Homo sapiens: one gene and its partners. The protein of the gene in region 2 purifies or fractionates together with the protein of the main gene of each other region. This does not show direct contact. Each region holds a gene or a part of one and is shown on either strand. Other genes may lie near its edges. The genes, in order: GNAI2, DUSP4, MYO1C, QKI, PKP2, ITPRID2 and ACTR2.

Region 1 (3,914 bases), on a different chromosome or scaffold from region 2:
GGGAGCCTGGGGGAGGCTTTCTACCCCATTTCTCAGGTTGGCTGACTGAGGACAGAGGCCTGCCCAGAGTAGGGCAGCTACCTTCTGGAATCATCCACACTTGCCCACTTCACCCCTGGTTCTGGGCCAGGAGCTTGGACAGCAGGCAGGCTGCAGCCACATCAGGCAGGAGCAGCAGAGGCTGTGAGCAGCTGGCAGAGGTGGCGTGGATCCTGACTGCTGGTTCACTAGGTGGTGAGGATGTGCTTGCCCAGAACACATGAGCCTTGTAAAACCTCAGTGGGGCTGGGGGATCCTGGACCAGCCCCTGCCTCTGCTACCCCAGAGGCTGGCAGGTCCTGCCCCTCCCACCTGTCCACATGCTCGCTCACTTGAAGTGTAGGTCCTTGAAGGTGAAGTGTGTCTCCACGATCCCCGTGGTCTTTACGCGGGTCCGTAGCACATCTTGCTGTGTGGGGATGTAGTCACTCTGTGCAATACGCTCCAGGTCGTTCAGGTAGCTGGGGATGGGGGGTGGGAGGGTCAGTGGGGGCCAGCATGGGGCTTCCTTAGCTGGACCCTGGGCCAGCTGCAAGAGGCCCCTTCCCTCCCATGCCATTTCTCAAGCACAGCCCTTGCTTTTTTTTTTTTTTTTTTTTTTTTTTTTTGAGACAGAGTGTTACTCTGTTGCCAGGCTGGAGTGCAGTGGCATGATCTTGGCTCACTGCAACCTCTGCCTGCCAGGTTCAAGCGATTCTCCTGCCTCAGCCTCCTGAGTAGCTGGGACTACAGGCGCCTGCCGCCCAGCTAATTTTTGTATTTTTAGTAGAGACGGGGTTTCACCATGTTGGCCAGGATGGTCTTGACCTCTCAACCTCAGGTGATCCGCCCACCTCGGCCTCCCAGAGTGCTGGGATTACAGGCGTGAGCCACTGCGCCTGGCCTAGGCACAGCCCTTGTTTCTTTAACCCCTGCCTGCATTACCTCATTGCTCAAATGAAGAAACCTGAACTCAGAGCCCCCGGCCTCCCACCTGTAGAATGGGAATGGGAGGAGGTGCAGCTCTGTGGACAGCTAGCCAGCCAAGCTCCAGCACCCAGGGTCTGAGCCAGACCTGCCTCGGACAGGATCCAGGATGTTGGAGCTATAGGCAAAGAGGGTGGGAGGAGGCAAATTAGTCCTTCGGTGAAGGATTCAGGATGCTAATGGGCGCAATTACGGCATTAGCCGCAGAGCAGCCGGGTGCGGTCCCTCGATGTGGTGCTGGACAGGTTGGGGCCTGCCAGGTCCAGTGGGCTCTTTGCCCAGCGCCCAATGAAATCTGGGTTCCTCAGGGGGAGGGCACAGACACCTGCTTGGCAGGGGTCCCAGGGGCTCCTCATTACCAGTTCCCTTAATTAGTATCAAGGCTACCCCTGCAGGGCCTGCCTCTGCTGCCTGCCTCAATATCCCTGCCATGCCCTGGAGGCTGGTCCCAGGCCTCCAGGCTGCTGCCCAGAGCTGACTTTTCATTCCTGGGGCAAGGCTGCTGGGGCTGGCCCTTGGCTCCCACCAGCACCCAGGCCAAACCAGGCCAGAGGGAAATGATCTCAGAGTAGCAGGGACAAAACAGAAAAACAGGAAGGGCCATGGGGAAGGATGACGCATGTGCTGTGACCCGCATACCATGCCCCGCCCCCTACTGCCAGAGTCCTCAATGTGGAGGTACCATGGTGCATTCCACACCAGCCTCTCCCTTTTCCCCAACAGGTGGGTTCGCCCCAGGGACCCCCTGACTCGCTGCACACTTGGAGGGTTGCTGCGAAGAGGGGCTGAAGGAGCCCTGCTTCCTGTGGTGTTCCAATCCGCAACCCATTCCCAGGGGGAGCTATCAAGGCTTAAACCTGACTGGGAGAACAGGGCCTGTATTCACTCCCAAAACTGTGCTGGGCACACAGTGGGTGCCTAATGTCTGGAGAATAGAGAAAGAGGATGATGGAGAAGCAGGAGGTGGCCTGGAGGTGGCTCTATTCCTGCTTCCTTTGAGTATCATGGGCACCAAGGTCCCTGCTGCTCTGACCCCAAGCTCGCTGGTGGCTGGGCCAGAGATCTCAGGGAGGGGCAGTGGTGAGGCCTGGGGGCCCCCACAGCATTTGGCTGTGACTCCACAGCTCCTGTAGGGGGTACATATTCACAAGAGCATTCAGGCCATGTAAGAAGGGTAGGAGGAGGCTGTTCATGTGGCTTGGACAGGGCTCAGGAATCACAGCCAGGCAAGACCCTCCTCCTCCTCCCACCCACCCTTGCTGAAATCCACCCTATGGGTAGGCTCAGGATTGGATGAACAATAGGAGCAAAAGGGTGTTCCAGTCAGAGGGGACTGGCTTAAGCAGAGATAGGGGAAGGCTAGAGTACAGGGACAGCAGCCTATCTGGTGACACCATCCAAAGCCTGTGGATGTCCCCTGCAGCCATCCTCAATGGCTATTAGCCTGTCTATCCTGTTCCCCGTGGGGTCCTCAGCACCCTGCACCAGTCCAAGTACATGACAGATACCACAGGGAAGGAGTTCAGAACTGTGGAAAGGGTGCAGGCTTGTCATGCCTCTGGGATTCCTGGGACCCCTTGTAATTCCTCAGCCTAGGGCCAGCGAGGGTCACAGCTGAGGTCCAGGGGCTCTGACCTACACACACACCTGTCACCTCCCAGATAACTTCCTCCCCTGTGGCCCCCTCCAGCCAGCCTCCACAGCCTATGTTCAAGCACAGCCAGCTCCCCACCACCCCGAGATGCTGCACATGCTATGCCCCTGCCTGGAATCCCCTCATCCACTCCTCCCCTGGCTGACTCTCCTTCAGAGCTCAGCAATCCTGTCTCTGGGCCAACTCCACCTCTACCTTTTCACTAACACCCTAAATTGTCACTGCATGGGGACTTTGCTCCACTCATCACTGTGTCCTTGAAGCCTGGCACAGAACAGGTGGCAGCAAATGTTCTGAGTCTTGCTCTGTCACCCAAGCTAGAGTGCAGTGGCGCAATCTCCGCTCACTGCAAGCTCCACCTCCCAGGTTCACGCCATTCTCCTGCCTCAGCCTCCTGAGTAGCTGGGACTACAGGCGCCCTCCACCACGCCCGGCTAATTTTTTGTATTTTTAGTAGAGACGGGGTTTCACCGTGTTAGCCAGGATGGTCTCGATCTCCTGATCTCACGACCCGCCTGTCTCAGCCTCCCAAAGTGCTGGGATTACAGGCGTGAGCCACCACGCCCGGCCGCAAATGTTCTTTAGAAGACTGTCAAGACAGATCAGACTCAACTGGCCTGGAAGAGATGTACTGTATAAGCCACCTGCCTGTCATTCCTCCTGGCCTTTCAGTAACGTGACACCCACCCACCCCCCAAACCAAAAAACAGGAAGGCCTTGGTTAACAGTCATCGGTTTCATAAGCAAAGACCAGCAGTGTCCTTCTGGGGGTTCTCAGGCCCTCCGGTCCAGCCTTTAGTCCTCCCCCAGCCCCTGCCCTGCCCTGCCCAGCCCCTCAGAGCACTCACTAGGCAGCTGAGTCGTTGAGCTGGTATTCCCTTGAGCGGCCAAAGCAGGCCTGCACACCATGGTCAGCCCAGAGCCTCCGGATGACGCCGGACAGGTCATCAGGGAGCACGCCTTGCTCCTCGGCGGTGCAGGACAGTGCAAATAGCTGCCTGGCGTCGTCCTGGGCACAGTGGCGGGTGGTCAGGCAGTTGAAGGAATGTACCCCCACTCTGCCAGAGGCAGGGAGACCTCTGGAATGGGGCCCAGGCTAGGGTATTCTTGGATTCCCTAGGATGAGACTTGCCCTAAAACCTTTTTGTTGTTGTTGTTTACTTTTTTCTGTGACGGAGTCTAGCTCTGTCACCAAGGCTAGAGTGCAATGGGGCGATCTTGGCTCACTGCATCCTCTGCCTCCCGGGTTCAAGCA
Region 2 (4,085 bases):
TAAATAAGGACATGGGAAAAACAGGTTGAAATTAGTAAGAAACCTCTTATGGAATTACATTCAGTAGGACACAGACACGTTCAATACATTCATTTCATACATTCAAAGGGCATAGGAAAAACAGAATTCATTCATTCAGAATGGCACATTTGATAATGAAATTATTCAGGAGATAGAAATGCAGATTTTAGGCACCTGCTGCTTCAGAGCTGGCAAAACTGACACGCAAATAAGTAGATCCTGGATATTTAGAAGCAGAGGATATTGGAACTTAAAGATCATTATAATCAGAAATTCTTACATTTTGAGAGTGGGAAAAACCAGAGTTGAGGAGGGAACATACTTGTCCAAGTTCCACAAGTTGAGTTGGACTTACACCTGGATCTGTCTCCACTTCTCCTTGCACACCTGCTAGGGGCACGGGAAGGAGCCCAGCCCCTTTGTAGACAATGAGAATAAGCTTTCCCTTTCATGATTTTTTGGGATAAAACTAGGTGATCTAAATCTAGCTCTTGAAAGGGCTGTGGCTATGGTACTTGCATGGATTTGGGGATGGGTAGGAGGGACTGAGTGGAAGTCACCTTAGAATAATCTTTTTTAACCCTGCCCACAGTAAGAAACACATTTTAATTTATATTGTGACCCAGGAGAGGGATACATGCACATCTGAAGAAAAGTTCCATAAAATGATATCCTCTTTAAGGGCAGTGCATCCTCCTAATTCCTATTCTATTGTATTCCATTTTAAAAATGTGGGTCATGACTCTTTAATGACAGCCTGGATTAGGAAACCAATGGGTAGAAGCAGAGTTTGGTGAAATATCAGCAGTGCCCTATTTGGATCAGTTCTGTTTTTGCATGAAAAGTCTGTCTTCACTTGATGAAACCTGCAGGCAGTGCCCCCTGGAGAAGGGCCCACCAGGAAGGGGTGGAAGGCAGAGGTGGCATAGACTGACACCCAGAGATGACTTACTGGGGCATGGCCCTGTGGGGGGTGGACTTGAGCAGCTTCTTCCACCGATGGATAAATGCTAACTTGCATGCATCCTCCCGCATCACCTTCACTGTGTCCTCCGGGCTCCACCAGCCCAGAACATATCGTTCTCACCCATGAGTGCTGGCCTGAGTGCAGCCCAGGGCCCACCAAAAGGAACCCCCTTTAGTGTGGCATCTTGTGAAACCAGCCACAGACCCCCAAAAGCTGGCCACCACTGTCAGGGACGAGAACCTTCCAGTGTTTCTGCCCCTTGAGCGAATCTGCTTCTTCACCTTGTTCCTTTTTTTTTTTTTTTTTTTGAGATGGAGTCTCGCTCTGACGCCCAGGCTGGAATGCAGTGGCGCGATCTCGGCTCACTGCAACCTCCGCCTCCCAGGTTCACGCCATTCTCCTGCCTCAGCCTCCCGAGTAGCTGGGACTACAGACACCCGCCACCACGCCCGGCTAATTTTTTTGTATTTTTAGTAGAGACGGGGTTTCACCGTGTTAGCCAGGATGGTCTCGATCTCCTGACCTCGTGATCCACCCGCCTCGGCCTCCCAAAGTGCTGGGATTACAGGCGTGAGCCACCGCGCCCAGCTCACCTTGTTCATTTTTGCTTGTTCTTTAAAACTCCCTCAGAGGGAACTGACTTTTCTGTAATCATTTTTCTGCTGCCTTCTAATGGTGCCTTTTCCAGACAGTTGCGATGAGCCTGGGGGAGATGACGAATGGCCCTCTCAGGCCACATCTAGCCTGTTCCCCACCAAATGGGTCACTTGGGCCCTCCTTGCCCCCCACACCACTCCATGGCCAGCAGCCGGTGCCAGGTCCCTGACAAGGGTTCTGCTGAGTGGCAGCCATGGCCATGCCTGGGAGAGAAGATGGAGGTCTGGAGGTCTCCGGAAACCAAGAGACAGGTTTCCAGGAGAGCAGGCTGTCAAATGCCCAGTACCTTACCAGCATTACCCTGTCCCCGGTTCCTCTTTGGCCTTTGAGGATCTCTGCTGAGGGCATCCGAGGGCACCCCTCCATGTAGGCACCGAGAAGGGAAAACTTCATGATCTGTCTCCCTGATGCCAGGCACAGAGCCTGGCTGTCAGAACCAGTCCTCATAGGCCTTTGTGCAGGGGACTTTCATCACTTACAGACGAGGAGGAGGCTCCGAGAGGTTCAGGAGGCCCGGGCTGCACAGGTGATACATGCTCAGGGTGGGGTGCAACCTCATGGCAGAGCCTGTGCCCTTTCGGAACTTCACTCCAGTGCCCTGTTCCATACCCTCAGCAATGGAGACAACATCCTCTCAGCTGCTCTGGGCTCTTCCTGCTTCTCCAGCCCTGAGGGCCACTCTGCTCTGTGACCGTGGGGCCTGCCCTGGCACTCCTGGGCCACCCAACCATTCACTTTTGAGTGCAGGCGATAGCTTGTCTGTCTTGGTGGTGAGTTTTTGCAGGACACCACCTGTGTCTAACATGTTGTTTTAAAATGTGTTTTAATAGCTCAAATTATGTAATAGACAAAAGGATCATGTACTTAGAATTTTTTCAAATCCTAGAGAAGTATATAGAGTAACAAGTGATGGCTTGGGATACAAGTGATCAACCACTGTTAATGAATGAGTTTCCCTTCCACTTTCTCCGAAAGGGAGCATGGACTGAAGTTTCCCATCACAGAAGCCCCTGAAGGACTTCAGCTGCAGACAGATATTTCCTTCCTCTTCCCTCATCCTCTAATTACTGCATTTTGGGCAGCAGTGGTGGCAGCCGAATAAGGAAAGGGGTTTATGATGGGAGGGAGGGGGTGCTTCTGTGATGAAGTGGCTGCCGAGGCCACCAGCATGACCGAGGCTGACGGTACCAGCCCCACCAGCAGGTTTTCCATCCAGGGAGGCTGGTCACTGTGACTCAGCAGGAACAAGGGCCTGTGACCAGAGAGAGATCCATTTATATCCTGAGGGAGGGAGAGGAGGGGAATAGAGAAGCCTCCGGTCAGAGAGGAAAAAATGTACACCCTGTTTCTATAAGCCTCATGATGTGGTAGAGAACCGTTTCCTTCCTCTCAGTAGGAAGCAGTCTTTAGGGTTGGGATTTGGCGCAAGTGACTGACTCACCGTCACATGTCTGCACATTGGAAAATTTCTATCAATGGCCCTAGGGCACAGAGGTCCTATGTCACTGTCATGAAGACCGCAAAGGTAGCGACATCCAGGACTGTTGGCCAAATTGTCATTGGAGTCAGTTGAATGGGTTTGTTGGAATGGTGGTTCTCCAACGCACAGGCCCTACTGAATCAATTGAATCCATTTCTGGCCCTACAGACACTGTAAAATAAAAATAAAAGCAGGGCCATACATTGATAGCACTGTGGATTGGAAGTTGGCCGCAAAAGGAAGTCCCAGAGATCACAAGAAAGCCAGAGATAGGGCTTGAAAGGTTGTCTTTTTGGATGGCCTCCCTGTGGCCTCTCCCTGTATCCCACCTGCCTCCACCCCTCCTAGATAGGAGCACTCACCCTACCCCAGCTCAGCTGGCCATTTATCATCATCTTCTTTTTTTATTTAAAAGATCTCCCTTCTCTGGAAGATGATCCCACAGATAACCATTCCAGGGCTTACCCACTCTCAGGTCAGGAAATACTCCCTTGCCCCAAACCTGTACATAGCATGAGGGGTTTATTTAGATTTAAGCCCGTTTTCCTCTTGTTCTGGTCTCTTGGTGACGGAACAGCTATTCATGAGGACGTGCAATGGACATCTGTTCCATTGCTGAGATCCAGAAGAGTTTGTACCAGGGTCATTTTTTCCCTTCTTTCTCACATTGGAGAACCTCCCCTGAGGAAGGGCTGGAATCAGGGGTGGCAGGTGTCTCTACAGGTACTTAGTGTCCTTGGAAGCCCAGCGTGACCTTTGCTTCTCTATTTTGTCATTGTCCTGAGGAGCTACTCCACAGTCACTTCTGCACATCCCCCTGCACGTCTTCCTTTGTATGTCTACCTCTCTAACCCAAGTCTTGTCCATAAAGCTTATCCTTCCAGCTTTGCTGCAGTCCTGACGAGTGTGTCCTCTGCATCTCTGGAAACCACTCCATGGCCATTCTCTAGGTCCACAGCG
Region 3 (3,898 bases), on a different chromosome or scaffold from region 2:
AAGCCCTGACACACAGGAAGATCATCGCCAAGGGGGAGGAGGTGAGGCCGGGCCCTTGCCCTCGGGTGTGGAGGGGCAGCTGTTCCAAGGCAGCCCCTACTCCCATCACTCCCCTTCGCCTGGTTCCCTCAGCAATGCTGGAGGGATGGAAGGAAGGCTGCTCAGAGAAGCAGAGTGAGAGCCGAGCGCCGTGGCTCACGCCTGTAACCCCAGCACTTGGGGAGGCTGAGGTGGGCAGGTCACCTGAGGTCAGGAGTTCGAGACCATCTTGGCCAACATGGTGAAACCCCATCTACTAAGAATACAAAAATTAGCCGGGCATGGTGGCGGGCGCCTGTAATCCCAGCTACTCGGGAGGCTGAGGCAGGAGAATCGCTTGAACCCGGGAGGTGGAGGTTGCAGTGAGCCGAGATCACGGCAACAGAGCTAGACTCTGTCTCAAAAAAAAGAAGCAGCACAGTGAGCTGGCCAGGGTCACATAGGAAGAGAGTAACAGTCCGGCTAGAACCAGACTCCCACCTCGGGAAGGAGGCCTCCTGTCCCTCTACCACCTTCCCTCTGGGGTGGCCACCTGTCCTCCCTGAGGTCCCACTACCAGCACCCCTCCCCATACTGCAGGCTTGCTGGAGCTGGGAGTGCAGAGTGGTGGCGGCTTCCTGGTCTGCCTGAGCCTGGGAGCAGGTGGGATGCACAGGCTCTGTGGCATTCATCTCCTTGTCTCACGCTGCGTCCACAGCTCCTGAGCCCGCTGAACCTGGAGCAGGCCGCGTACGCACGAGACGCCCTCGCCAAGGCTGTGTACAGCCGCACTTTTACCTGGCTCGTCGGGAAGATCAACAGGTCGCTGGCCTCCAAGGTGAGGGCTCGGTCCACACTGCTCCCAAGGCAGAAGGGAGGGCCGTCGGCGAGGCGGGGGGTGCTGCAGGGTGGGGCTGGCACGCGCAGGGGGCCCACGCCTTCGGTTGAATGACTGCCCTAGGACGTGGAGAGCCCCAGCTGGCGGAGCACCACGGTTCTCGGGCTCCTGGATATTTATGGCTTTGAAGTGTTTCAGCATAACAGGTCGGTGCCATCTTTCCCCCGTCTCTCCTCCCGGTCTCCTGTCCTGCTCCCTCTCTTCTGTCCTCCAGCCTCTCATTCCTGCCCTGTGACTCCCCAGCCAGCCGGGGACTGTCTCTGTGTTTCTCACCTCCTGTGCTCAGGGGCGTCGTCCAGCTTTTCCCCTCTCCTGGTCCTGTGTCCCCACTGAGCCACTGTGGGCTCTTCTCCTTCCTTACAGCTTTGAGCAGTTCTGCATCAATTACTGCAACGAGAAGCTGCAGCAGCTCTTCATCGAGCTCACGCTCAAGTCGGAGCAGGAGGAGTACGAGGCAGAGGGCATCGCGGTGTGTGCTAGCCTGGGGGCACTCTCCGTGGGCCACGGGGAGCCTGGGTATCGGGGCCCCTGGGAGAGGGTGCCAGGACCCCACGGTGATCCCTTCCTTCCCTTCTGCCCCTCAGTGGGAGCCCGTCCAGTATTTCAACAACAAAATCATCTGTGATCTGGTGGAGGAGAAGTTTAAGGGCATCATCTCGATTTTGGTGAGTCCTCTGCGCCTCCAAGGCCTGGTGCTGGAGGCTGGGTGGGAGGATGTCCCCCTTCTCCGTTCTCTCCAGGCTGGTCCACGGAGGGCCAGAGTTTGGGGCTGAGTAGAGACAGGGCAGAGCTGTGAATGGAGGATGGAGGGAGGTGCCGCCCCAGTTGGAAGCTCTCTGTGGAGACTCCCTGTGATCTGCCCCTCCCCTGTGTCTGTGCCTCCCAGCACGGTGACCCCAATCCTCTGTGCGCTCTGACCTGTCCCCCATACGTCCTTCCCCCTGTGCCACACCCCCCAGGATGAGGAGTGTCTGCGCCCCGGGGAGGCCACAGACCTGACCTTCCTGGAGAAGCTGGAGGATACTGTCAAGCACCATCCACACTTCCTGACGTGAGTGGGGCTGCGGGGCTGCTGGGGGCAAGGGCTCACTTGCAGCAGAGCCTGCGGAGTGCAGGAGTCCCTCCGCCATCACAAAACACCAGCCACAAGGAGGTGACCAGGGACGGTGCTGAGTTAAGGACCCCTCACATGTGTCCAGAAACTAAGAAGCTTAGCCAGGCATGCTGACACGCCTGGAGTCCCATCTATGCAGAAGGCTGGGGCAAGAGCATCACTTGAGCCCTGGAGTTTTGAGGTTGCAGTGAGCTAGGATCAACCCACTGCACTCCAGCCTGGGTGACAAGAGCGAGACTCCGTCTCAAAAAAAAAAAAAAAGGGAAAAAAATAAATAATGAATTTTTTAAAAAAGAGAAAGAAGGCCAGGTGCAGTGGCTCACGCCTGTAATCCTAGCACTTTGGGAGGCTGAGGCGGGTGGATCACCTTAGGTTAGGAGTTCAAAACGAGCCTGGGCAACATGGTGAAACCCAGTCTCTACTAAAAATGCAAAAATTCGCTGGGTGTGGTGGCAGGTGCCTATAATCCCAGCTACTCGGGAGGCTGAGGCGGGAGAATCGCTCGAACCCGGGAGGTGCAGGTTGCAGTGAGCCGAGATCGCACCACTGCCCTCCAGCCTGAGCGACAGAGTGAGACTTCAACCCCAAAAAAAAAAACAAAAAACAAGACACTAGTAGCCTGGCTTCCTCCTTCTTCTTGTTTGAGAATGAAACTTGCTAAGATTTTTCATCTTCCTTGTTTGGAAATTGATTTTTATTGAAGGAATCCTCTGAAGTGGGGAGAGGTAGAAACAGGAACAAGCGCCTCTGTCCAGCGCGGTCTGATGCATGCTGTGCATGTCGTCGCTTCACCTGCAGCTGCTCCTTGAGGGGTTCTTGGTGTTTTCTCACTGAGACTCCAAGAGGCGAAGTCATTTCCCCAAAATTAGCTCTCATCTGGGTTGCCGAGCTGGGGTCAGTGCCAGGGCTGTTGAATGCCAAAGCCATGAGTATTTTTTGCATAATAATATATTGAAAATTTGTTTCTGGATGGGCGTGGTGGCTCACGCCTGTCATCCCGACACTGTGGGAGGCCTAGGTGGGCAGAGATCACCTGAGGTCAGGAATTCAAGACCAGCCTGGCCAACATGGTGAAACCCTATCTCTATTAAAACTACAAAAATTAGTCAGGCGTGGTAGTGGGCACCTATAATTCCAGCTACTTGGGAGCTAGGAGAATTGCTTGAACCTGGGGGGCGGAGCTTGCAGTGAGCTGAGATGGTGCCACTGCACTCCAGCCTGGATGACAGAGTGAGACTCCGTCTCAAAAAAAAAAAAAAGACTTGTTTCTAGGAGTCTCTCTGAATCTATTCGGGTTTAGGGGCTGCCTGATTCATTAAATAATAAATACTAAAAACTTGTTCCTGATTATAAAAATAATATTGCTTATTACAGCAAAGTTGGAATGTGCGCAAAAGCCACCTGTGATCCCGTCGCCCAAAGGCCATGGCTGTTAACTGTGTGAGGCATTTCCCTCCTGCCTTTTTCTATGCATTTTTTTTCGTAGTCGAGAACTTGTGTATAAGGCTCAGGGTAAATATCCTGCACATTTTCCCGTATCATCAAACAACATTTTCCTCAGAACACTTCCTGGAGCGGTTCTGACCCACAGATACTCCCCTCTCTCACCCAGCCCTTCGGGGCCCCTGGCCAGCCTCCCAGGTTTCTGCTGGAATCACAAGGCTGCCACAAACATCTCCGTGCCTTCAATCTTTGTCCGTGTCTCTGGTTAGCTGCTTGAAATAGTTCTTAAAAGCAAATGGGTGAAAGGGTATAAACACGCCTAAGACTTAAGTGCTCTCTTGGGGCAGCAGATTCCATTCTGAAAAGTAGTGCGCAGCTCACCACCCCTTCTGAGCAGAGCCCGCAGCGGCCGAAGCAACGAGAGT
Region 4 (4,085 bases), on a different chromosome or scaffold from region 2:
TTTGTAAATAACAATTTATCTTTGTAAATTACATTTTATTTATTTAGAGTTCTAAAATTGAGGGCTGAAATGAATGACATGTAATAGAAGACAAAACTGTACCAATACGCTGTTAACCAATCAGACTGTCCAGGTATTCTCATTTCATAAATATGTATACACACATATAAATACACAGAGTAGTGTTAGCTGATGTGAGTGATAACAGCGAATCACCATTGAGATGGTCATTTGGATCATGTAAACAAACCGTGTCATGTCTCTGATGGGAGCGGTGGGTAGTGTACTGTTAGGTGGACAGGTCTTTTAACATGCTACTATTTGTAAAAGTTTCCGTTGCCATAACAGTTCATGTAGTAGTCTGTGAAAATTCGAAGCTGTCTGTCAAGCTGCTAATATACAAGTTGTCATGGTACCATGTAACTTAAATTGATGAATTTCTATGCAATTTACTATTCTCTGAAGCCTATGAATGCAGCCTCATCTCATTTTCAGTTAAGGGTACTTTATGTATAATTATGTCATTGCTGCCTTTTATGTAGGAAATGTAAAAAAGTTTTAAAAGGCGAAAATAACATTACAGATTTCATTTTTATACAGGTTACAATATTAAACATGAAACTACCAAATTCCAAGAATAGTAAAATTCTAGAGTCAGTTGATTGATTGAAACTATTTGACAAAACAGTTGAAAGCTGAGCTTTCAGTCAAGAAGTTGGTGAAATTAATGTCCTTAAACTTTTCCTTTAGGCAAAATGTCAGGGAAAACTTAACATGAAAGTAGTTACTCCCATACGCACCAGTGCAGTAGCTCCAGGTGTAAGAGGTCACGAAGGCACCCTGCCCATAAAACCAGGATGTGCATACGTACACACAATCGGTGTCTGGTTATGGTTTTCTAAACACTACATAAGGATCTGAATTTTTTAGTGTGCCAAAAGCAAACGATAGGTTTAAATGAAATTGCTCACTACCAAATCAAGACTCTTCATATATATACGTGTGTGTATATATATATGTCATAACACTTTCACGTGTGACAGCCTAAGGTTTCTTTAGTTTTAGGATGGGGTGGGGTGGGAGTGGTTTTGCATGTTTGACCAGGATGTGATGCCTGTCTTTATTCCTTGATAAGAAGTAGCTGTTACAGCATTTCAAGCAAATTATTTTAGGTAGAATAGAACTTACTGCCAAATGATTATTTATTTAGCAAAAATTATTCTCCAACTTTTCGAATTCACAATTTTTCTAAGTGCATAGAGTAGTTTTTTACATTGTCACGAATTCCTTAATACCTTTATTTAAAATGGAAAAAATATGGACAATATTTTAGAAATATGTGCTACACATCTAATTTTATCTGTAGTTTAAGTGATCTAAATTGAGATGCCTTTGATATGAAGAGATTTACCAACATTATATGCACTCGTGCCTTCAATGTGGAATCAAACTGGTTAACCTCAGCACAGTCCTCTCGTTTCTGTGTTTCTGCTGCACTAATTGCCAGGGGGTGGGGGAGAAGGCGAATGAATTAATTCATAGTAGAAGGAGGCGATAGGTGCAGCAAAGGGCAGCCACAGTGTTGATTCCACATTATAATGTTGTTGCCTCTTCTTGGCAAAAGACACCACATTGTGGGAAGATCTCAGCTTCCAGGGTAAAAGTTAATTTATAACTTAAAAGTGCTATTAAGTTTTTATTACCAAATATATCTTTTATGGTTTATATTGTAGTGGTATGTATGAAACATTTAAAATTTTACTGTGGAAATTGTGTATATATATATATATAGTCGAAATAGGTGTTCACAGGTCACATGTGAACGGAGAACTGCATGACCGTACATGAAATGCAATAAACCAACTGGAAAAAGTGCATGTGCTTCATCCTCTCAAGCCAACTGCAGCTGGAAAGTGCTGCTTATCCTCCACCCCCAGAAAATGCATGTATCAATATGAGAATAAAGAACGCACACTTTCAATTTTATTGAGGCTTTCAACACTATTTAAAAGAAAATGTAAGAATTTGACATTCTGGAGTTATTATAACATTAGAAAATGAGCATAACATTCACTCTGATTTTAGCCATTAAGGGAGATTAGTAAACAGACTGCTACAGTGTTCCATAGTTGGACTGTGCATCCAAAACATTTTTTTATCTTTAATAAATGGTACAGTTTTTATGTAGTTTTCGAATGTAAGAAGAAAGGAATGCTGACCAAAACTTGATTTCATCAGCTTCATGAAAAGGACTAGTGTCATTAACCTGTTGAACAGAATTGGTTTATTAAAAAAATCATTTCCAGTAGTGTGAAACCTTTACGAGTCTTTAACATCTAAATGTTATGACTCCTTGTACCTTAAGTTTTCCAGTCTTTCTTATTTATATCATCTCCAAGTACCTCTGGCTCCTTTCCTCTTGCTCACCGGAACCTTAGTTTTCCTCAACAGAATGCTTTGTTAAAGTAGCCCACAGTTGCAGGATCCATAGCACCGTCGTGCAGACTAGCAGCCCAAAGGTGTGTTTGGTTTGGCTTATACGGTGTTTTGCTTTTTAAACTACTTGCCATAATTTAAAAGTGGCAACACTAGACTTAAAAAAAAAAAAGTCTGATTGCCCATATTAGATTTTTTTTTTAATTCTTCACAAAATCTGCTCTTCCTGAAAGATCAAAGTGTCTAGAAAGCCCAAACATGTATTCTTAACATAGTAGGCACCAGCTGAAACTGAGTAATTAAACGGTCCCCTGAAGCCAAGTATTCCCTGGTTAGTCGCCACCCCACCACTCCTTCCTGTCTCTAGTGTCACACTTGGGCTGTTGATTTTCTTACTCTTCTCTTGCTTTAATCCTTCCCCCCGGCTCTCTGGCTCCTGTGGATATCTGTGCTTGTTTCCTGGTCCAGGATGGTGATCTGACTTTCAAACCAGCTTCTCAAAAGGGGTGACATAAAATCAGTTTTGATGTTTTTCCTCCTGAAAAATCAGATGAATATTTTAGTCACTGTTACTCATGCACATTGTGTTCTTATGTTTACAGAAGTGCTTAAGTGAATGGAAGCACTAGACATTTGGATTTCCTTCCTAACGTAATTTTTAATGATTACCCCTTTTATACAGTAATTTGTGGTCTTTAGAAAGCAGTTAAACTAATTGACCATCTAATAGTTGTACTATACATATGTCTAAAATAATAGTCATGGTAAGTTTGGCATCATATCTTCCCCAAAAAATGTTTATTAAAATTAGATTATTCCAGTTTAATGCTATTTTGTGAACTGTATACCCTCTGAAAGCGCTTATTTTTACATGCTACACAACAGTTCCAATTTTAAGGAGTGTCTCCTAAAATTGGGATGAAAATCTACTGTAGTCTGTTTTAAAGTATGCTATACTATGTTCATTGGTTACTTAACTGGATATTAATATAAAGGTTATTACAAGAAAAATGATGAAGAGCAAAAGGAGAAGAAAATATTTGCAAGTGAATCCACAATTCTTGCAGAACTATTTGAGTTGATACTAAAGATTTTATGTTCACTCCTTTACCTTAGAACTGTCAAGCTTGGGAATGAGGAAAGTGCCTTGGCTGTGCTTGAAACCTGAATTTTAGTGCTTCCCTTATTACATTCATTGTTTTCAATGATTGATTTATAAAATTAAGACATACTGGTAGTACAAGTTGAAAGTTGGTTTGAATACATTTTAATTAAATGATAATATGTTAATATGCTTTTGTTCATTGCTTTCTCACTGAGGTAAAACAGCATTAAAAAGTTGTCCAGAATTTAAACTGACTCTAGATTTCTAGATTCCTAGGTGGCGGGAAAATGTAAAACTTTAAAGCTCATGAGCGGAACGCAATGCAAGTCCTGAAACTAAGAGTTAAATGTGAGTCTCAGGGAAAAAAGCTAGATTAGCAAATCAAACATACATATGCCTCATCCAGAACATCATTCAGGCATCAGTTCGGGGGCTACTAGCAGTAAAGTTGGTTTTAAATGAAATAAAGTGGAAAAGTTTGATATCACTTCCAGAAGTGGTCTGTCATCAGTAAGTATTGGTGTTGAGTCTAAAATGAATTAGA
Region 5 (4,085 bases), on a different chromosome or scaffold from region 2:
GAAGATGCCTTCTTTGAGCAGGCAGAAAGGGAGCACGCAGAGAACACTAACAAAGAATGGCTGGAGAGGTGAGTGGAAAACCAGGGGAAGCTGGTGCCCTGAAAACCAAGGGATGAGAGAATTTCATGGTGTCTCAAACACCACCCACAGGTTGAGTAATATAAGCAGTGCTTATATTACTCAATATAGTGTCTGCTTAGGATGTAGCAGATAAGGCCATCATTGCTACATTTGTCAGGAGACTGTTTAGGTGGAATGGAGGGGACTGAAATCATATTGCAGTGGGTTGACGAGAGACTGGGAAGTGACAGGGTGGTTCAAGAAGCAAGGGACACAGAGATGGAGGGAGAGAATGCCAGTTGTTGGAGGATGTCAGATAATAATTTTGTTACTGTTAAAATCATTTTGCTAAAACTGTGGCTATCACAAATCCTAGGCTATGGTAGGCATTCCATAAATTTTGAATTACCTGTTTAAAAGCCTTTATCAGCTTTTTCCTCCATAAACAATGACCTGATACACTTTCTCTTTTTTTTTTTGAGACAAGGTCTCACTGTGTTCCCCAGGCTGGAGTGCAGTGGCACAAATCTTGGCTCACTGCAACCTCCATCTCCTGGGCTCAAGTAATCCTCCCGCCTCAGCCTCTCGAGTAGTTAGGACCACACGTGCACACAACCACACCCAGCTAATATTTGTATTGCTCGTAGATATGGGGTTTCATCATGTTGCCCAGGCTGGTCTTGAACTCCTAAACTCAAGTGATTCGCTCGCCTGGGCATCCCAAAGTGCTGGGATTACAGGCCTGGGCCACTGCTCCCGGCTTATTTTTCCTCTTTGTAAGTATGCTCATATTGCCTAAGGTCTGCTTACTATAAGAAATGTTAGAAATCTCATGGTGAATTTTACATCATAAAAAATATTTCCTGTGTTAAGATTAGATTAGCCCTCATCATTTTGAGAAGTAGTTTATTAATGATGCTACCTGGTCAGTGAGCATGCTGTACAATTTCACTTGAAGGGATGTTTAGAGGTAACAACTATCATTAGACAACTTTAGCAATCAAATGACAATAACATATCTAATGTTTTAGCCTAATGATGTTAGATCATTATTGCAGGAGTTACTGATCTAATCAGCCATCCATTTCTCAATCTTTCTCTTAGTAACGTGCACAGTTTATAAAATTTGTGATCAGGCATTAAACTTGAATAAGGGTTAAGTTCCAAACACTAAATTAGTCAAGCTATAAAGTAAATAGGAATGGAAAGGAATGACTTAAAAATTCAGTTATTTTAATAATTTAATACTGCCAAAAGAATACCCCTTCAAATCACTGACACTAGAAATCTAAAAGGTACCAAGTACCAAAGGAAGAAAAAAGACATCTAGAAGTCAGCCATCTTTCCTTAGCTCTTTTTACAGTCATAGTTATCCAAATGGCATTCGTGCTAAGAATAAGCATTTTTTCCTTTTATTTCATGGGATGATGAAGAAAATACGCATGCAATTCTCCAATTCTTGGCCTACTTTGGAGTTTAGAGCAGATTTTCATATGGCTGAGGGGTAGGGTCCCTTCAGCCAGCATCTAATCTGGAACAGATGGACTAAATGTCACATTTCCATACAAAGCTGCCATGTGAGCAGGTAGCTTGGCCCCTGTCCCTGAGGTAAATAGGCTGATCTGTCAATTAGGCAGCTGCCTGAAAAGTCATTATTTTAATCACTTATCTCTGGAAGCCCTTCTCTCAAGCCCCAGAAGTGCCAGCTCATGCTGTCAGGGCTGTGGGAACAGAATGTGCTGGCAATGACTGAACTGCAGAGTCAGGAGGGGACTTACCCCAGCTGGGAGTCAGTGAAAGTGCTTCTCTCAGTGAGCAGATTCCCACTTCCCCCTGCGGCCGCCTGGCCGACAGTCAAGTGCGCTCTCCTCCCGCTGGAATCCACGGCGACACTGGGCCCAGCTTCCCTCAGCGTGCGGGTGCTGTGGAAGGAGCTCTGATGCCAGGAGGACCTGGAAGCCCTGTTCTGAGTGACGGGCTGCAGGGGCACCAGCGGCCTGACCTGCCCGACAGTGAGCCCTGCCGTCAGGTAGTTCTCCTTCTCCAAGAGGTTGCCCATGCTGCGGCTGGTCCCTGGCCTGGGGTACGTGAGCAGGGCCGGGTTGGCAGGGATGCTGTCAAAAACGGTGTCGCTAACAGAGCCATGCTGGTACTGTCTGTGGTATGTGTCAAAGTGGCGCTGCCTGCTTGTGGTGCCAGCACGGCTGACCCCCACGATCTCGGAACGAGCATATCTCGGTGGCACTAGGAGGGCGGCCCGCCTGCTTTCTTGGTGGTGCAGGGTGTGCCCAGCCTGGCTTCTCTGGCTGTACTGGTAATCGCTGTGCGTGTAGTGAGCCCTCTCCGGGCTGCTGTCAGGAGAAATCTCCAGTCTCCTCAGAGGATGCCTCAAGGACCTTTCTTCCACGGACTTCTGGGAGCTGTACTGTGCTGTTCCTCTTCCCCAGCGACCTTCATAAGTGGCAGTTGTGCCAGCCTGCACATGAGAGAAATAAAGTTTAAAGGGGGCATAAATCAAATTTCAACTTTGCTGAGGACTAATTACTCTGGGACTATTACCCAACATGTCCGTTTCTCTGAATCAGATGACGAGAAGTTTGCCCCTTTCTGGGTAAAGGCTTTTTGAAAATAAGACTTGGTTGACTTGAGTCATATTTATTTGCACTAGGATGTAAGAATGTTTCACATCCCTAGTTTTCCATGGTATCCTCATAAATATCAATTTTCTCAAAACTCATTTAGGAAATGATAATACTTGGGAAAAGTAAACACTCAAAAATAATCTTAGGAAGTTTGAAAATATTTTCATGGTAGTAATCTGATCACTAGGGTTACATTCTTTGATATCCTACCTTTAGCATGTCATAGGTTTTAGGAACAGGGGAACGGCCTCCAACAAAATCATTTTCAACCAAGTGTAGGTTGTAGACATACTCAGGAACACTGCTGGTTCGGTGAAGATTTCCTGCAATCAAGCAAATATTAAAATAACTCAGAATACAAGTAGGCTAATTAATATTTACAGACTGTATAACAATGATGTATTAAACTTTTAAATTTAAGTAATGAAGGCCAAGAACAAGTATTAAACGTACGTTAATGTTTTTAAATGCTAGTTTCACACCACCCTGGGATATGGCAAGTGATCAAAGGTTATCAAAACATTCTCTACAAAAGTTTTTCAGCTGGGTGTGGTGGCGCACGCCTCTTATCCCAGCACTCTGGGAGGCAGAGGCAGGTGGATCACCTGAGGTCAGGAGTTCAAGACCAGCCTGGCCAACATGGCGAAACCCATCTCTACTAAACATACAAAAATTAGCTGGGCATAGTGGCGGGCATCTGTAATCCCAGCTACTCAGGAGGCTGAGGCAGGAGAATCACTTGAACTCGGGAGACAGAGGTTGCAGTGAGCCAAGATCACACAATTGCACTCCAGCCTGGGCAACAAAAGTGAAACTCTGTCTCAAAAAGAAAGTTTTGGCTGGGCACGGTGGCTTACACCTGTAATCCCAGAACTTTGAGAGGCAGAGGTGGGTGGATCACCCGAGGTCAGGCATTCAAGAGCAGCCTGGCCAACATGGTGAAAGCCCCTCTCTACTAAAACTACAAAAAATTAGCTGTGCGTGGTGGCAGGCACCTGTAATCCCAACTATTCGGGAGGCTGTGGCAGGAGAATCGCTTGAACCCAGGAGGTGGAGGTTGCAGTGAAGCTGAGATTGCGCCATTGCACTACAGCCTGAGCAACAAGAGTGAAACTCTGTCTCAAAAAAAAAAAAAAAAAGTTTTCAAAATGAAAGTTGAATTTAAAAAAAGAAAAAGAAGGGAGAGGAAATTCACAAAAATCTAAAAATGTTTGGTTGTTATAGTGCTGAAAAATTTGGGACTCATTGTCTGGTTTAGCTGGTCGAGACTATAAAATTCAGTTTCCCGAGTCACAGAACTCTGTTCCCAAGGCAGGAATTCGGAAGCTTCTTGTAATAAGCAGGTGTAGGCAATAAATATAATGGTGACTCAGCACTACTAGA
Region 6 (4,085 bases), on a different chromosome or scaffold from region 2:
ACAAATCTTTCAACAACTACTATATGCTAACAGAAGGCATGGAAATCTCAGGTTCTAGAAATTAGTACAATATCAACTACAATAGGTGTATCCACAAGGACATTAGTCTTTCTTCCCCTATCCTCTCACAAATATCTCAAACACGGGAAAGCAGGTTACCACTACCCTTAGGATATTGAAGGCATACAAGTTTACTTAGTAAAACACTATCTATGACTAATCTTATCTACACTGGTTCACAAAACAGATACAAGGTACACAGCAGTAGAATCAAAACCTAATTTTAAAAAATATAAGTTGAGAAGACTTTGAATGAAAAGCTTTTTGAGGTGTGCTAAGACAAAATGAACTTTTACCTCTCCTCCTCAGTCATATGATGATAAACCATGGTTTGCTGACGCAGCATTGCCAATTCTAAATCCATCATTTGTGTTCTAAACAAATTCAGGCTCCGCCTCATTACCTGGAGCTCCTGAAAAGTATTCTAGAATGCAATATAACAAAATTACACTTCTAAATTCTACAAATTATTTTGGAACACAAAGATGTAAGAAAGAACTTACTTCATAAAGAGGTAGAACAGATGATTTCTGAGTACTATATGGAGCAGCAGCAGGATCAGGTCCTCTCATCATAGGGTACTTCAAAAAAGTAAAAGTAGGATTAAAACCAATGTTAAAGTGAATACTTCCAAATCACTTAAGGGGTTAAAAGGCAGAATTTGGGGCCTATATATTTTTCTCTTTAAGACAAAAGGATCCAAAAAACCTTCATATTGTAAGCAGGAAAAAAGAAATCAGTTCCCAATGACACCTAGTACTGCTAGCTGTTCCAGGTATAAGTCAATCTACGTGGGAGGAGGAGGCGAAGGAACATAGTTCACATCTATTTCTTTCAGGACTTCCCTCTTGCGAAACTAAAAAAAAACAAAATCAAAACGCAAAAATGTAGAAGCCATTGCAAATATCATCATGAGATTATAGTGATTATTAACTTTGCTGGAGAGCAAGCAATCATTGTCGTCTTTCTCAGACATCTTAGCATTTCCTATATGCCACTATTTTAGGCAGTGAGATAAAAACATAAAAGGTATTCCCAGCCTTCAGGTGTTCTCACAGTGTAAAGAAAAATAAAGGAAATTTTAAAAAAATTCTAATACTGTGGAAGGAGTGCTATGATGAACACAGAAAAATTCAGATTACGTGAACTTTCCCAAAAGTGGTAACACTACTTGAACTGAGCCTTAACAGTAAATAGGGCTTGATTATGCAAAGAAAGGCAAAGACTGGGTGATCTCGGTTAAAAAAAAGTGGCTTATAGTCCCAGTACTTTGGGAGGCCAAGGCAGGAGGATCACTTGAGCCCAGGAGTTCAAGACTGCAGGGAGCCATGATTACACCACTGTCTCCAGCACTCCACGTGGGCGAGAAACAGAAACTTCATCTTTTTATTTTAAAAAAACAAAACACAAAATCAGCCATGTGCAGATACCTAAGAACACACAACTGTTTAGAGACCTGTGCACAATCCTACAGCTAAGGAATGAGGCTGGAGAGATAGTCAGAGACCACATCATAGAAAGCACCTGTCCACTAGTGTAGGGTGGGGTAGGCATGGGGAGATGTATTAGCTGAGTTATTGCTGGGATATCCAGGAGAAAGAGACCACAGCTGGAGCAGAAGAACTAGGTGGCCTAGAAAGATGCACCACGGTACTGGTGGACAGGGTCCTGGAAATCCCCAGCTTGACATAATCACAGCTGCAAGTTCCATCACAGACAGAACTATATTTTGTAAGGAGGAATAAGAAACACCCACATTCTGTTTAAACAGAAAACTGTTAGGGGACAATTGTCATGAGGATAAAACTTACAGTTAAGAGGAGGTATATCTTATTATAACTTGAGAAGTTACACCTTTGATTTTTACTTTCCAAGTGGCTCCCTGTCTACTATGTCATGATAAGAGGTCTATTACATTCATTCTAGGCCTCCTGACTCTTTGTTGAATGCTCTCATGACTATATTACATTGTCATTTTCTTCAATCCCTCAATTGTCTAAACATGATTCATTCAGAGAGAATGTTCAAGAAAATGTAAAAGGCAAAACTGAAGACAACGTACTTATTTTCAAAATTTTTTTGGGAAAATTATTTCCAGTCTACTAACAAATCTGAGAATGACTTTAAAAGTGACAAGACATACAGAGCATTTTAAATCAAATTCACACTTTACCTGATTTGTTATTTTCTGGTCTGGAGTAGTTCCAGTCTTTGAGTCCAGTGGAAGTAGACTAACTCTGTGCACAGCATCGAGGGTCAGTAGGTGAAGGGGAAAGCTTAGTCAGAGAGCTACGAGCAGAACCAGGAGAACGTGGTGCCACAGAAGCCAACAGGGAGAAAACTTGGAAAAGGAAAAGGTAGTCAACATGTTCAAATAGCAGAGAGAAAGAGAGAAAGAACTTTAAGAGGGAAGATTTTTTAATAATAGAAATGACAAAAGATTCTAGACTAAAACAAAGACAGTGGATGATAGACTAAAAATGGGAGGATACTTAACGAGAAAAATCTCTCCTCTTGGAAAGGAGACAGACTTGTGAGCAGAGAAATCGACTTTGATCAGGGTTAGTTACAGCTTCTCCCTTGAAACAGGAGGGAAGATAGAAAACGAAGGCAGATGCAGATTAAGTTTAGACATGTCAGAAAATAAAGCTGAGGTAGTTCATACTTGATGTGCCTTAGCTTCTCTGTGAATTAAAAAGTGCTCAGAGCAGTAAAAGAAAAAAGCTAATGATAACATACTTTTTCTCATACCTGTGAAAGATTCTGCAGTGAGTTTCTAATATCATGTAATACTCTTCGCAACTGCATTTCTATGGCTGAAGGAGGATTCACAGAGCACACTCGGTAAGGGTAGGTGGCATGTCTATGTGAGTAAGGACACCCGAAAGGGGAAGCGAAGGCACTACAAGTAGCCCCTGATATGTTGGGAACACTGTGAGTGCTCAGAGTTCTTGTGTGCTCACACAGGGGCCTTTCTTGCCACTCAGAGTGGATGGAATGAAGGGAACAGGTAGACTGAGACATTGGTGGTGGAGCAAGCCGTGAACAGGTAGGAGTCCTTCCATGATGGCATTCCTCCACCCGCGGCGCCTCACTCTGGGGGGCTTCTTCTTTCTTCACAGATGATGGAGAGATGAAAATGGTCGATTTAACTAAAGACTGACCATCATGTTCCATCACCCGCTTTTCCAATTCCTGCTCCTCTTCAGGTGTGTACTTATAGGTGAAGGAAGGTGGGCTGCATCTGGTCTCTTTTCCTGGAGATAATCGAACATTGACAGAGGACACAACCCTTACTGGGCTCAATAAGGTGGTTGGTAAAGACTGAGACCTTCTTAGAGGATAGCCAGCTTTTGCAAATAAGTACCTTTGTTTTAACAAATCTTTTGATTTTAGCAGGCTACGCCCCATCCTTTGATTAGACAGACTGCAAACCTTCATTTGAGCTCTTTGCAAAGCTGTATTAACTCTGTCCATGGAAGAGGGAGGCCCAGTTGTATTTTCAGAGCTCATATCACTGCATTTAGCTTCAATAGAAGCCAATGATTTCAGAATATGGTGTGTGGTATACTGAGTAAATTCACTTTCACTGCTTTTACCCACATCACTTTCAGCACTTGCTTCCCTCAGTAGCTCTACTGTCTCTGCTGGAAACAAATCCTCTTCCACTTCAGTAATTTCAATGATATGATCCCCTGGACTACAGGTGGACTGTTTAGTTCCTGTATTCTCAATGGTGTTGCACTGAGGGAAATCCTGGCTACCTGATTTTCTTTTGTCTGCAACTGCTGCTGCCTTCTCTAGTCCCTTCTGAAGAGGGACAAGAGACTCCTCCTCTGATTCATTAAAATAAGGCTGGTCTTGTGCTGTTGGTGTGGCAAGGTCTTCACCAAGTGACGTAACTGTTGTCTCACTGTCACAACTATCAGCACTACTCCCCATAGCCTGCAAGGACTCCTGAACCTGTGAAAAGAAAATAGGTGGAAAGATGAAGAATATATGTAAGAAGAGTCACTAACAAAATA
Region 7 (4,085 bases), on a different chromosome or scaffold from region 2:
AAAACTCATATACAGCCCTTGAATGTTGTACTCTTTTAAAAAGAAGAGGATTTCCATTGCAAAAAAGAAAAAAAAAAGGAGGAATTCACACCATCATCAATTCAAAAATACTCCCAGGAACACTGACTAATGCAAGAATTTACATTTTATTTCCCAAAGAGCCCTCCCTACCCACCTCACCTTATTTTCTACCACTTCCATCAGGTCACACACATACTGGCCTTTCTCCAAACACACTTGACCCATTTCCAGTGCCACACTCTTTTCCCACTGGATTATCCCCTGAAGTGCCTAAAAGACTCCTTGGCACATATCTGACAGGCCCAGACATTCTCAGTAAGTTCCTGTTGAATTTATAAGACCATAAAAAAAAAAAAGAGCTCTCCCAACGTGGCCAATATTTTATTTCCAATAAAGAGGGAGGCAGTTGCTAATGGCAATATCAAGAGAATATATAAGTAGTCCCCTCCATTAAACCCACCTCAAAAGTTAGAAATGCACTCCCAAATGTTTACCTTCTCCTTTTTAATCTACTATATATTTGACAGGCATGATTTTATGCTACCTTTTTGAATCTCTGCGTATTTTTTTTAACTCAAGCCAATTCTGGGGACAAATTCCATGCATAAAAAATTAAAATAGCTATGCCAGGCACGGTGACTCATGCCTGTAATCCCAGCACTTCAGGAGGCTGAGGCGGGCGGACTACCTGAGGTCAGGAGTTTGAGACCAGCCTGACCAATATGGAGAAACCCCATCTCTACTAAAAATACAAAATTAGCCAGGTGTGGTGGCACATGCCTGTAATCCCAAATACTTGGGAGGCTGAGGCAGGAAAATCACTTGAACCCAGGAGGTGGAGGTTGTGGTAAGCCAAGATTGCACTATTGCACTCCGGCCTGGGCAACAAAAGCGAAAATCTGTCTCAAAAAAAATTTAAATAGCTTAAAAGAGAGAATATCCTATTTTTTAAAAAATAAGTCTTTAAGCCTTTTTTTTTTACCTTAAATACATATTTAGCAAATAAAAATGTATATAAAATCTTATTTCACAAATTTTAAAAACTGAAAATATTTCAAAGTGTGGTATATAAATAATGTAGTTTTCTGGGGCTTATAACTTATTGAGAAACCAAATTCTCTGACATAAAACATACATAATAAATGTTTGATGAAGTGTTTTTTCTAACAGTTAAGCTTAACCTACCTTGAGCGTACAAAGTCAGAACTGCCTGGATGGCTACATATACACCGGAAAACTGGTAAGTTTCAAACATTACCTGTAAATGCAGACAGAAAGAAAAAAACTGGTATTTAGAAAATTACATAATAAATAAATGTTTTCCTCATGGTCACAGAGTGAATTAATTGCCCAAAATAGAATCAAATGGACCTGAAATAGTCTTCCATTTTCATCAGCTCCTCTTATTTCTTATTGAAGTCCTGCTGCCACAGAGCTCCAAATCTGAAGACAGATTTCTAAGTCCCCAAGCATTTCATAAGCGTGACAAAGCAAAGATTTCTTAGTGTATTAGTTAATGACTAATTAGTGTGAAAGAAAGCTCTCTGTATTGAACAAGACTTTCTTAATTGATATCCCTTAAGGGAAATTCTTTTTTTTTTTTTTTTTTTTTGAGATGAAGTCTCACTCTGTTGCCCAAGCTGGAGTGCAGTGGCGCAATCTTGGCTCACTGCAACCTCCACCTCCAGGGTTCAACTGATTCTCCTGCCTCAGCCTCCTGAGTAGCTGGGACTACAGGCATGCACCACCATGCCTGGCTAATTTTTGTATTTTTAGTACAGACAGGGTTTCACTATGTTGGCCAGGCTAGTCTCGAACTCCTGACCTCATGATCCACCCACCTCGGCCTCCCAAAGTGCTGGGATTACAGGTGTCAGCCACCACATCCAGCCAGGGAAATATCTTTTTTTTTTCTTTTTTTGAGACGGAGTCTTGCTCTGTCGCCCAGGCTGGAGTGCAGTGGTGCCATCTCAGCTCACTGCAACCTCCACCTCCCTGGTTCACGCCATTCTCCTGCCTCAGCCTCCCGAGTAGCTGGGACTACAGGCGTACACCACCACACCCGGCTAATTTTTAGTATTTTTAGTAGAGACAGGGTTTCACCGTGTTAGCCAGGATGGTCTCCATCTCCTGACCTCATGATCCGCCTGCCTCGGCCTCCCAAAGTGCTGGGATTACAGGCGTGAGCCACCGCACCCGGCCGGGAAATATCTTTTAATTCGAAGACAAAATATAGAAATTGCTTTACAGAGCCTCGTACCCCCTCCCTCAATCTGGGCCAAGAGTGTAGCTCTGTCTACCCTGAGCAGCTTAAAAATTAAAAGAAAGAAAGAAAGAAAAAATAAAAAACCCAGTAAAATGCCACGGCAAAGACAAAAATCAATGGTTAATTCCTGATTGCTGGAAGATACAGAAATGGCTTAGCTGCTGAGCCCAGTCCCTACTTGAATCAAGACTGTAATTACAACCTCCAAATGAACTACCCTGGAAGGAGGAGTTCTTTCCTTTTTGCCCTCACTGGTCACACACATGTTCATTCTCTGTAGCCCAGGTCAGCTGGGAACATCCTGCATGATTTTTTTTTTGGTGATCTTGACTGAGCACCCCTTGACTGGTAGGGTTGCCTATCACTCTGAATATCTAAATATTTAGAAATTTTACAACTGACCACAATGAAAATTACACAGAATTTAAATTCTACAACTCTGAAACACATACTCATCAATTAAGCAATTAGATAGTCTGAATAGTATTTTATTCCATCATCCTTTATTCCACCTCCACAGGGATGAAAATGGAAGAATGATCATATATATGCACATACCAATGTGAAAGCATGTTAATGAGATTAAGGTAGGACACTATCAGTCATAGACATATTTGTAGTCATAAACAAATAAGAATATTAAAATATAAGCCATAAGAAATCATATGGATTCTTTAAAACCATGATCTTAGATTTTCAAAACACTTAATACAAAAACTGAGTTTTAATACAGGCTTTAAAAATACTAACAACATTTTCTTCTAAACCCTTTCAAAAATTTCCATCAACATTTAAACATATTCGTAAACAAAATATGTACATTAAACAGTAACTGGAAAGCTACAGAAGTTATTAAATTTCTACTTCATATATACAAAAATAAAAGAACCTTGAAAAATTACTTATTTAAACTATGAGGATCATAGCTCTCTTGCTCTCTCTTTCCTCTGTAACTGCTTATTTCATTATTTCATTAACTTTTTTTTTCTTTTTCTTTTTTCTTTTTGAGACAGAGTCTCGCTCTGTCGCTCAGGTTGGAGTGCAGTGGGGTGATCTCAGCTCACTGCAACCTCCACCTCCTGGGTTCAAGCAATTCTCCTGCCTCAGCCTCCTGCGTAGCTGGGATTACAGGCGTGCACCACTATGCCCAGCTAATTTTGTGTTTTTAGTAGAGACGGAGTTTTGCCATGTTGGCCAGGCTGGTCTCAAATTCCTAGTCTCAAGTGATCCACCCGCCTTGGCCTCCCAAAGTGCTGGGAGCCACCTAGCCCGGCCTCAATAACGTTTTCAATCTCCTTCTGCTGGCTCCTCCTATCTCTCTGGTCCTTGGCCTTTTCACCACTGTCTACCCTCTTCTTTGTTGAACCGTATCATTTATAGCCCTACCTTCAAAACAGACCTATAATCTGGTAATTTCTCACTATCTCTACTACTACTACTTCAATCCTAACCATCATTATCTTTTGCTTAAATGACTGAAAAAGTCTCCAACTCTTCTATCTTTGCCTCCTTGTGGGATACTCACAACACAAGAGAAATCTAAATCTGAGCATCTCCTTTTCCTGTAACAGCCCCATATTTCACCCACAGTAAAAGCCCAATTCCCTTTTTTTCTTTTTGAGACTGAGTCTCACCCTGTCGCCCAGGCTGGAATGCAGTGGTGTAATCTCGGCTCACTGCAGCATCTGCCTCCTGGGTTCAAGCGATTCTCCTGCCCCAGCCTCCCAAGTAGCTGGGATTACAGGCACGCACCACTATGCCCAGTTAATTTTTGTATTTTTAGTAGAGATGGCGTTTC

What was found.
Region 1: the proteins of DUSP4 (region 2) and GNAI2 purify together in Homo sapiens (affinity purification with mass spectrometry; one large-scale study listed by BioGRID and IntAct). This does not show direct contact.
Region 3: the proteins of DUSP4 (region 2) and MYO1C purify together in Homo sapiens (affinity purification with mass spectrometry; one large-scale study listed by BioGRID and IntAct). This does not show direct contact.
Region 4: the proteins of DUSP4 (region 2) and QKI purify together in Homo sapiens (affinity purification with mass spectrometry, with the first as the bait; one large-scale study listed by BioGRID). This does not show direct contact.
Region 5: the proteins of DUSP4 (region 2) and PKP2 purify together in Homo sapiens (affinity purification with mass spectrometry; one large-scale study listed by BioGRID and IntAct). This does not show direct contact.
Region 6: the proteins of DUSP4 (region 2) and ITPRID2 purify together in Homo sapiens (affinity purification with mass spectrometry; one large-scale study listed by BioGRID and IntAct). This does not show direct contact.
Region 7: the proteins of DUSP4 (region 2) and ACTR2 purify together in Homo sapiens (affinity purification with mass spectrometry; one large-scale study listed by BioGRID and IntAct). This does not show direct contact.

The regions. Positions count from the first base shown.
Region 1 is NC_000003.12:50,252,778-50,256,691, reverse strand, and holds part of GNAI2 (guanine nucleotide-binding protein G(i) subunit alpha-2), read right to left. Parts: intron 3,669-3,914; coding exon 3,508-3,668; intron 501-3,507; coding exon 372-500; intron 1-371. UniProt on the Homo sapiens protein: Guanine nucleotide-binding proteins (G proteins) are involved as modulators or transducers in various transmembrane signaling systems.
Region 2 is NC_000008.11:29,340,379-29,344,463, reverse strand, and holds part of DUSP4 (dual specificity protein phosphatase 4), read left to right. Parts: intron 1-4,085. UniProt on the Homo sapiens protein: Regulates mitogenic signal transduction by dephosphorylating both Thr and Tyr residues on MAP kinases ERK1 and ERK2.
Region 3 is NC_000017.11:1,475,574-1,479,471, reverse strand, and holds part of MYO1C (unconventional myosin-Ic), read left to right. Parts: coding exon 1-41; intron 42-736; coding exon 737-856; intron 857-979; coding exon 980-1,062; intron 1,063-1,279; coding exon 1,280-1,385; intron 1,386-1,500; coding exon 1,501-1,581; intron 1,582-1,875; coding exon 1,876-1,967; intron 1,968-3,898.
Region 4 is NC_000006.12:163,574,802-163,578,886, forward strand, and holds the end of QKI (KH domain-containing RNA-binding protein QKI), read left to right. Parts: 3' UTR 1-3,791; downstream 3,792-4,085. UniProt on the Homo sapiens protein: RNA reader protein, which recognizes and binds specific RNAs, thereby regulating RNA metabolic processes, such as pre-mRNA splicing, circular RNA (circRNA) formation, mRNA export, mRNA stability and/or translation.
Region 5 is NC_000012.12:32,876,008-32,880,092, forward strand, and holds part of PKP2 (plakophilin-2), read right to left. Parts: intron 3,026-4,085; coding exon 2,913-3,025; intron 2,537-2,912; coding exon 1,839-2,536; intron 1-1,838. UniProt on the Homo sapiens protein: A component of desmosome cell-cell junctions which are required for positive regulation of cellular adhesion.
Region 6 is NC_000002.12:181,915,154-181,919,238, reverse strand, and holds part of ITPRID2 (protein ITPRID2), read right to left. Parts: intron 4,024-4,085; coding exon 2,812-4,023; exon of another isoform or gene 2,640-2,811; coding exon of another isoform or gene 2,553-2,639; exon of another isoform or gene 2,402-2,552; coding exon of another isoform or gene 2,342-2,401; exon of another isoform or gene 2,234-2,341; intron 917-2,233; exon of another isoform or gene 769-916; intron 642-768; coding exon 564-641; intron 485-563; coding exon 357-484; intron 1-356.
Region 7 is NC_000002.12:65,248,221-65,252,305, reverse strand, and holds part of ACTR2 (actin-related protein 2), read right to left. Parts: intron 1,280-4,085; coding exon 1,207-1,279; intron 1-1,206. UniProt on the Homo sapiens protein: ATP-binding component of the Arp2/3 complex, a multiprotein complex that mediates actin polymerization upon stimulation by nucleation-promoting factor (NPF).